Regions from separate parts of the Homo sapiens genome. Here region 2 is linked to region 1. The links come from fine-mapping of genetic effects on gene expression. A gene starts in region 1. The other region holds a variant in brackets. All regions are shown on one strand. Distances are from middle to middle.

Region 1 (4,372 bases):
CGGGCGCCACAGCAGCATCTGGTTACAGGCGGCAGCACAGGTCTAGCACGCCCTGGGTGCCCCACACAGGTGCCTCCAGGTGGCCCAACCTCCGTCCCTCGAGACCAGCCCAGTGCCTTCACATCGCCTGGAGGCCTAGATGCCTTCTCTGGGCATGACCCCTCCCTGTAGCTCCCGCCTACTGTGTCGGGGGGAGAACAGGTGAGACCCGAGGGTGGCGCTGCCATCTGCCATCCCAGTGACTTCATGACAGTGACCCTGTCCCTGCACCAAGAGCAGCCTGTAGCCCAAGGGTAGACCCAAGTCCAGCTAACTAAGAGGAGATAGGCCACACTCACAGACAGGGAAACTGAGGCAAAGAGCTTGGAGGAGCCTGCTAGCAGCACAGAGGTCCTTGGCACCCACCCTCCAGACCCTGAGCTCTGCCCAGGGTGGAGCTCTGCCCAGGGTGCACCCCTGCCCCAGCAGGGCGCATGGCACACAGGGCAAACCTCTGTCATCCAAGCTTGGCCCCAAGAGTCCAGCTCTGATGTCCAAGATCCTTCCCAGGAAAGTGGGGACCCAGCAGGAGTGTGCCCAGTGTCCAGCCAGCCCCAGCCCCACATCACAAGCCTGGCAAGGACTCAGCCTCCCTGGGGGAAACAGTTCCCCACCTGCTCCAGCCATGGGCTAAGGACCTCCACTGTGGCCCAGTGGGCCTCTGGGAGCCCTGTAGGGTGGGGACCCAAAAAGGTCCTGGGGGGCAGCCCAAACCAGCAGCTGGGAGTCACTCTTGCGGTCAGGACAGTGCACACCTCCCACCTGCTTGCCAGCTGCCCTCATAGGCCACACTCCCTTCCCTGAGCATTGTCCCCACTGGAACAGGGGCCACCATTCCAGCCTCTGCTCCCAAGCCCAGTGGGGACCTTCCTGACAACCACCCCCGGGGACTAATACTAATGCATGCCACATGCCACATCCCTGTTCCCTTGGCCCTGCTCTGCTGTCCCCAGTGACTCAATGCCAGGGGCTGCAGGCCTGATCCATGGGACCCCACTCAGCCAGCTCCAGGTGCCTGGCCAGGGCATGTACCTAACCCAGGCTCCCCGCCAAGGCCAGGTGCCCAGGGGAATTCTGCCAGCCATGGTGATGATGGCCACCCCAGCTGACTGCAGCCTGGGTTTCCTGCAGTGCATGTTGAAAGATAAACAGGCACGGACTGGTGCAGCCCAAGGGGTCCCGCCCGGGCCCTGGCTGGGCAAGAGGATGTCTGCCTTAGGCCCCCACCTGCTCTGAGCCCTGGCCTGGACAATCCCAAGGGCCTTCAGAAACCTAAGCTGGTCCAGGCCTGTGGCCTGGGAGGTGTCCCTTCCCTTCCCAGGCTGGAGCCAAGCTGGCCAGCTGGGGGTATGGCAGGACACCCATATCCCCAAGCCCCTCGCTCCACGAAGGACTTCTGTCCCTGACAGCCATGTGTCCTGCACCCTCAGGTCCACTGGCTGCCCAGGCAGTGCTGGGAAAGCCGGGGTTCACAGCTCCAAACAGTAGACCCAGCCCCCAGAGCAGGTGGGGGGACCAGGAGGCAACAGAGTGGATCAGGCTCGGGGAGAACTGACCCCAAAGGACAAATGGGTGCAGAGATTCAGGCTGGCCAAGGCTGGCACAAGGACATTCCCAGTGGCGAGAGCATGAGCAAGGGTCACGGATGTGCCAGGAGGGGAGGCGGAGAGATGCCTGGGACCAACCTCTATGGCAGGCCGCGGCCCAAGGGCAGGGGAGGGGTGGACGGAGGGAAGGGACAGGGTCTCCTCCGGGACCCCAGGGAGGCTGGGCCCAAGGACCATGGAGCCTCGCAGCTGAATGGAGCCCCCCAGGCCTGCCTTCTGTCCTGGGAACCAGGGCCTCCCTCGAGCCAGAGTCCTGAGCGCCGCTTGCCCCCCGCCCACAGCGGCCCCAGCGAGCGCGCTGCAGAGGGCGCGGGTGCCGTGACTCAGCCGAGCACCGCGATGTCAGCGGACGCGGGACCGGACTGGACACGACCGAGCCACCTCCCCGGAGGCCGCAGCGCCGGCAGGCGAGGGCAGGGCCCGGCGGGGAGGGGGCTCGGGCCCGCGCCGCCCCCAGCGCCCGCCGGGGTCTGCGCGCGCCCGGCCGTCCGCACGTGCGCGCGGGGAGCGCGCCTCTGGCCGCGGTGCGCGCGGCCTCGGGCTGAGGGCGGGCGCGTGGGGTGGGCTCACCGGGCTCCGGCGTTTGAGCGTCACGTTCTTCCAGAGCAGCAGCTGCAGCTGGTGCAGGAAGCCCATGGCGGGGCCACGCTCCGCCGCCTCAGCGCCGCGGCCCGCTCCTCTGCGCGCCCCGCCGGGCCCCGCAGCCCGCCGCGCCGCTGGGCATCGCCCGCGCGGGGGCGGGGCGCTCGGGCGTCCGGGACCCGATCCGCGCTGGCTCCGCCCCGGCGGCCGCGGCGACAGCGACTCTGCCCGCGCCCCGCCCGCCCCCGCTTAAAGGCGCCGCGCTCCGTCCGCGCCCGCCAGGAGGCGCCCGCCGCCCGCGCCGCGCCCGGGACCGACCCGGGCCCGAGACCCTGCGCGCGCCGCCGCCGGGAAGCCTCCGGGCCGCCCCTCGCCGGGCGTCACGCGACGCGCCCACATCGAATCCGAGACCCCGGCTTAGCCTTCGTAGGCCGGGGGACCCTCGGGCGCTGCGCTCTTCTCCCAGAGGCATCCGGCTGCGCCCACCGCGCTGGCGACTCTGCAGAGGCGCCCCAAGCCTTCACTGTCCCCGGGGCGCGCCGAGCGGACGCTGGCGAGGGGCCAGCTCACCCCCGTAAGGGTCTCCTGTGTGCTTTGTAAACCAGCACTTGGAGTCCAGGTGGTGCCCACCTGGAAGGGAGGCAGGGCGGCCAGGTGGGTCCGTCCCGCGATTCCGAGCAGCCAGCGGAAGGGGGGAAACTCGAGGCCCCAGGAACGCTCGCCGTGAGCGGAGCAGGCAGGGGACCGAGGCGGCCCCTGCTGCACGCGGCTCGTTTTTCTCCCCATATTCGGGCGAGTCTGGTCTCTGCACAGGGAGTTCGGGATCAGGCGGTTCTGCGGCTGTGGCTTGGCACCTGCTGGGGCGCCCCGGGAGGTGGGGCAGTTCCTCCGCGTGGCCTGTAGAGAGCGACAGAGGACAGGCTGACCCCATGGGTGGCTCTGACGGCGCTTCCCAGACTCAGTTTCCCCCCTGTGAATGGGGTGGAGTAGCGCTGTGTGGTGTCCAGTGTCAGGGCGCACATAGAAGGCGCATCCTCAAGTGAATGAAGACCTCCGAGGCCACAGCTCCCCACTCCTCCCAGCTCCTTTGCAGCAGGAAGGTGACCCTGGGCTAGTGAGTGAGGGATCAGCTTCCCACCCCAGCCCGCAGCCTCAAGGCACTTGCTTTTCTCTGCTCAGTCCACAGGGCTGGGTCAGGGCAGGAAGCTACCAGCAGGTCTTTCCCACAAGCCACAGCCATGGGTGAGGGGGGCTTCCTGCCCTCAACCTGCCCACCCCTACCTGGGGTAGGGACAAGCCCTGTGCCCCAGCCCCGGGGGCTTAGCCTGTTGGGGCCCTGGTCAGCACCACCCGTGGGTTGGCCTCTCTCCTCCTCGCCCCACTCTCCACCGTCCACTACAGGGGCTCCCTGGCTGCAGCCGCATCCCCAGTGCCTCCCCAGCACTGGCCACCAGAGGGAGCTACAAGGCACAGGTCAGACCCTGTCACCCCAGACACCCTCCAGCCTGCGGGCCTGGGAGATGGGCGATTTCAGCCTGGCCAGGCCTCTGACGTCCGTTCCCTACTCTTCCCCAACCTTGGCCTGTTTTGGTTTTTGTTTTGAGACAGGGTCTCATTCTGTTGCCCAGGCTGGAGTGCTGTGGTGTGATCACGGCTCACTGAAGCTTCAACCTCCTGGGCTCAAGCCATCCTCTCACCTCAGTATCCCAAGTAGCTGAGACCACAAGCGTGAGCCACCACGCCCTGCTAATTCTTGTATTTTTGGTAGAGATGAGATTTCACTACACTGCCCAGGCTGGTCTCGAACTCCTGGGCTCATCGCCTTGGCCTTTTGGGGGACACAGAAGGCTCTCTGATAAGGGGCCGTCTGGCGGAGGCTGTAGGAACTGGGGTAGCCAGTGGGCAGCCCGGCACAGGGAGGGCTCTCAGGCGGAGGGTGAGCAAAGGCCCAGAAGTCAGGCGACAGGACCCCCCGTGGGGAACAAGCAGCCCCATGGCCGTGGGGGCGACATGTCAGGGGAGGGCAGATGCAGGCTCTGTGGCCCTGCACGGAGGTGACCCATGAGACACTGGCCAGACCCACGAGGCACTGCTCAGATGTTTATTGTCCACCGCCCTCCCTCCCTGAGCCCAGAACAAGCTGG
Region 2 (4,372 bases), 54 kb after region 1:
GGTGTGCTCAGAAGTGGGGACAGAGCCCCCAGCGGTGCCATATCTGATCTGTTTCTTTCCTCCCCTCTGCTCTCCCGTGCCCCAGGGAGTTTGAGCCTTTGCTGAAGCCACACGTGGCTGTGAAGAAGGTCCCGTATGTGGATGAGGAGGGGAATCTGGTAAAGCCGCTAAAACCGAACGGGATAAAGATGGAGAAGTTTGTGTTTGATGTGTTCCGGTTTGCTAAGTTAGTAGTAGAACTCATTTATTTTCCCCTTCTTCCTTCTCTCAGTTTTGGTGGTGGGAACTGAGGCGCAGCTGGTAGGGAAGTAGAGGCTTGAGGGAGCCAAGGGCCCCGCGGGCAAGTCTCAGGGAGAAGACCAGAGGGTGCTCTTGGCCCTGAGGGTAAGCAGCCCCTGAGGTGGGGGCATAGGGAGTCCTTGGGGCTGTGGACTTGGGAGGACAGTAGTGCCACCTCCCGGACCTTCCACTGCCCCCACCCATGGTTAGGAGAGGTCTCCTGGCCAGGTTGCCAGGGCGGCTCGCAGGGCCTTTGGCCCTCACTGCAGGGGTCCCAGGGTTGGGCCTTCGGCTGCTGGAAATGGCTGCTGGGATTGGGCCATCCCTGGCGTCTCAGGAGCAAAAACACTCAGTACCTGCGGGGGCTCCTCCCTAGACTTGCTGCCCATGGGACCAGACCTTCACTCTGTCACTGGAAACCTGGCCCAGCTCTCACCTGCCCGGATCAGGGCCTCTGTGCTGGGACGTGGGTGACTAGCCCTTTCCCCACCAGGAACTTTGCTGCCTTGGAAGTGCTGCGGGAGGAGGAATTTTCCCCACTGAAGAACGCAGAGCCAGCCGACAGGGACAGTCCCCGCACCGCTCGCCAGGCCCTGCTCACCCAGCACTACCGGTGGGCTCTGCGGGCCGGGGCCCGCTTCCTGGATGCCCATGGGGCCTGGCTCCCAGAGCTGCCCAGGTGAGTGTGGCCCTGGGGTAGCTACAGCCAGAAGGGGAGGGCTGTCAGGACCCAATCTTCAGCTCCAGAGCCCTGTTGGCTCTGCGACAGCCATGCTGGGGAGGGGTCTTCCTTCCCGGCACCACCGCAGGTGCAGGTAGCCTTGTGCCCAGCCAGCTCCAGGTCACACGGTGACTGTCGGCACAGCCTCCTGGCCCGACCCTTCAAGTTGTGCTCAGTGCACTGAGGGAGGCAGGGGCTCCCCAACTCCCTCCCCAACTTATCCACAAGGTTTTGGTTTGTTTACAAAGGCATACTTAGATTTGGCTTTTATTTATTTATTTTTATTTTTATTTACTTTTTTGAGATGGAGTCTCGCTCTGTCGCCCAGGCTGTAGTGCAGTGGTGGGATCTCGGCTCGCTGCAAGCTCCACCCTCCCCCGGTTTCCGCCATTCTCCTGCCTCAGCCTCCTGAGTAGCTGGGACTACAGGCGCCCGCCACCACGCCCGGCTCATTTTTTTGTATTTTTTTTTTTTTTTAGTAGAGACAGGGTTTCACCGTGTTAGCCAGGATGGTCTCAAACTCCTGACCTGTGATCTGCCCGCCTCGGCCTCGCAAAGTGCTGGGATTACAGGCGTGAGCCACCTCACCCGGCTATTTTTTTATTTTTATTTTTCTTATTTGTATACATTTGTGGGGTGTGTGTGCAACTTTGGTCAGTCAGGTCAGGGCTTTTAGGGGATCCATCACCCAACCAACGTTGTTCCCATTTATTCACAGGCTTTGAAACTGAGCCCCGGGCATGAATTTAGAAAGTAGCAGGACAGTTTGATTTCAGGGCTGGGAAAGAAAAGGACGTTTGGCTTCCATCTCCCTGATTTTCTAGGGCCACCCCTAAATCTAGCTGCCTAGGCTCTGCGTGGGAGGCCTGTGGGGGTGCTTTCTACCCCAAATCAGGTCCTGTCACTTGGCAGTGGGATGTGTGCTCAGGGTTTGGGGTGTCCAGAGGAAGATGAGCTTGCTGAGACAGGAGCTGTGGGGAGCCAGGTGTGTAGAGCTCAGTCTCCTATCGGGACTGGGGGTGCTGGGGGAGGGCTCTGGGCAGGTGCTGCAAGGAGATATTGACAAGTGGACTTTCCCTAGCTTGCCCCCAAATGGAGACCCTCCGGCCATCTGTGAGATATCGCCCTTGGTGTCTTACTCTGGAGAGGTGAGAGCTGCCCATCCCTATCTGGGGCTTTTCTGGTGTCAGGTTTGGAATACCATCTGGGGAGAGGTGGCTGCTCGGGTGGAGACGGCACAGCTCTACCTCGGTTAACCAATGGGGTCGGTGGTTTAAATTTGCAGAAGACTTTCCAAGATATGGGTTGGGGTGGGGTGAGGCATCCAGAGGCCTTTGCAGGTCCTGGGAGGGCATGGGGATGAGACAGCCCAGGTCTGAGCCCAGTGTGGGGCCAGTCAGGCCTTGGTGGGGGCCTTGCGGAGGGAGGACACCGGCCTCTGCTACCTCCCTGACCTCGGCTGCCCTTGCCCCTTTCTCTGGTCAGGTCAGACCTGTGCGTGACAGGAGGGTCCCCTGC[T/G]GGCCTAGGGTCTTGAGTGTGGTCTTGGGTGGCCTTGCAGTGTGTGTCTGCTCCTGGCCCTGGAAGCCTTTCTGTCCCCACCCCTCCCTGACTCCAGGCAGACCTGGGATCGCACCTGGGGACTGTGGCTCTTGGTGTGGCCAGAGGGGCTGTGACCCGCCAAAAGGTGGGTACTTGGCCATTGTCCCCTGCTCGTCTCCAGGGTTTAGAAGTGTACCTGCAAGGCCGGGAGTTCCAGTCCCCGCTCATCCTGGATGAAGACCAGGCCAGGGAGCCGCAGCTGCAGGAGTCCTGACCCGCCCAGACTGTCCCCAGACTCCCCCGAGACCTGCCAGCCCCGGCATCCTGGAAGTCCCGACTCCCCCCAGACCTGCCAGCCCCGGCGTCCTGGAGCTGGGGGCTACAGCCCAGCCTGAGCTCTGGGTGGGAAAGCAGCCTGCCCCATGCTTCCAGCCTGCAGAACACAGAATGAAACATGCTGGTAGACTCCACGAGGGCAGGGCCTCTCCTGTCGCCTCTGGACACAAGTGGCGACAGCCTGCTGGGGGCTCTGTGGCTCCATTCCTGGCTGTGGGGTCTAGTCAAGAGGCAGAGGGACTTGGGACCTGGGAGAATGGGGCTGAGAGGAGGCTTCGGGTTGGGGCCCAAGGGAGGTGTGGTGTCATCTGGGGAGAACAGGAGGGCATGTCCCTTTGGGAGCCCGCCTTGTGGATCCACCACACCCCACCGAGCACTAGAAGCTGCATAAGCTACACAGGATGTGCTTCTGCAGCCTACAGATGCAGAACCAGAATGAGGGGGACAATTCCACCCACTCGAGGGCTGCCCCCTCTTCCTTAGCAGACGAACCAGTAATGGGGGCAAGGCTGGGGCATCCCAGCCCACACACCCTGGATGCCCAGCAAGGCCACAGAAAGAGCCTGATGTCCATGATCCAGGTGGCTCTGAGAAGCTTGGCCTGGACACCTGAGCCTGCGGCCGGTACTCCTGCCTTCTCCCCATCTATCCCCAAGGCCTCTGCCTCTCAGCCTCTTCCATGGTCGGTTTAGGCTGCTGAGTTTTCTGTGCTTCCCCAAGAACCAGTGGGATCAATGCCGGCGGCCTCTGTGATGGTTGCTGACTAATCCGGGATTTCATGAGTCAGAGGCACCACCCCTCACCCCAGCTGCCTGCTGCTTCTGACGGATCTTGGTGCTCAGGCTGCCTGGCTCTCCGAGTGAGGACGCAGCCTCCATATTTGGTGCACTCAGGCATGGCTGGGACAAGCCAGCTGCCCCAGGGTTCTTCCCCTGGTGATTCTCGCCTGCTTTCTCATCTCAGGGGAGGCAGTGGCACCTCCCTCTCCCTGCTGACATGAAGAGAGCTATGATATGCCACTGCTGCCAACTCATCCTCTGCCCCCACCTCGAAACCCACAGTCCCCAGTGGAGGGCCACTACTCATCCCCATTGGTTTCCCAGGGGAGGGGTGTTGTCTGGAAGGGCAGGTTCAGATGCAGCCTTCCAGATTTAGAGGCACTGGGAGGACAGTGGCTGAGTGGAGGCGCCCAGACCTGGGCAGGCAGCAGGCTCAGGCCCACACCTTGTGATTTTTGAAACCAAAGCCCAGAAGATGATGTTTACTTCTCTCTCCCTGGCTCTGCCCTTCTTACTGCAAACCATGCTGTGCCTTAGGGCCCTTCTCATAGCTGTTCCTCATGGCCATGACTGGAACAGGGATGCAACCTCTTTCTACACAAGCACAGTTAGTTGGGTGAAGTCTTTTTTTTTGTTTGTTTTAGACGGAGTTTCACTCTTGTTGCCCAGGCTGGAGTGAAGTGGCGTGACCTTGGCTCACTGCAACCTCCAGGCCAGC

The links. PIP is the estimated chance that this variant, and not a neighbour inherited with it, causes the effect.
Region 2: its variant is fine-mapped to the expression of ABCA2 in whole blood (TOPMed, PIP above 0.99).

The regions. Positions count from the first base shown.
Region 1 is chr9:137,025,859-137,030,230 of GRCh38, forward strand. ABCA2 (ATP binding cassette subfamily A member 2) reads right to left here and starts at 2,379. Exons shown (of 49, transcript NM_001606.5): 1 at 2,217-2,379. The coding sequence starts at 2,282. It overlaps LINC02908 (long intergenic non-protein coding RNA 2908), which reads left to right and starts at 1,606. Exons shown (of 3, transcript NR_171031.1): 1 at 1,606-2,053. It overlaps FUT7 (fucosyltransferase 7), which reads right to left. Exons shown (of 2, transcript NM_004479.4): 2 at 4,316-4,372. RefSeq lists a silencer at 2,457-2,636 and an enhancer at 2,520-3,264.
Region 2 is chr9:137,079,917-137,084,288 of GRCh38, forward strand. UAP1L1 (UDP-N-acetylglucosamine pyrophosphorylase 1 like 1) reads left to right here. Exons shown (of 9, transcript NM_207309.3): 6 at 86-226; 7 at 773-958; 8 at 2,082-2,148; 9 at 2,721-4,372. The coding sequence ends at 2,813. Among named protein-coding and RNA genes, the nearest start is that of UAP1L1, 4.6 kb to the left of the region's middle. RefSeq lists an enhancer at 3,496-3,825 and a silencer at 3,603-3,837. The variant T/G (reference allele first, on the strand shown) is at 2,519.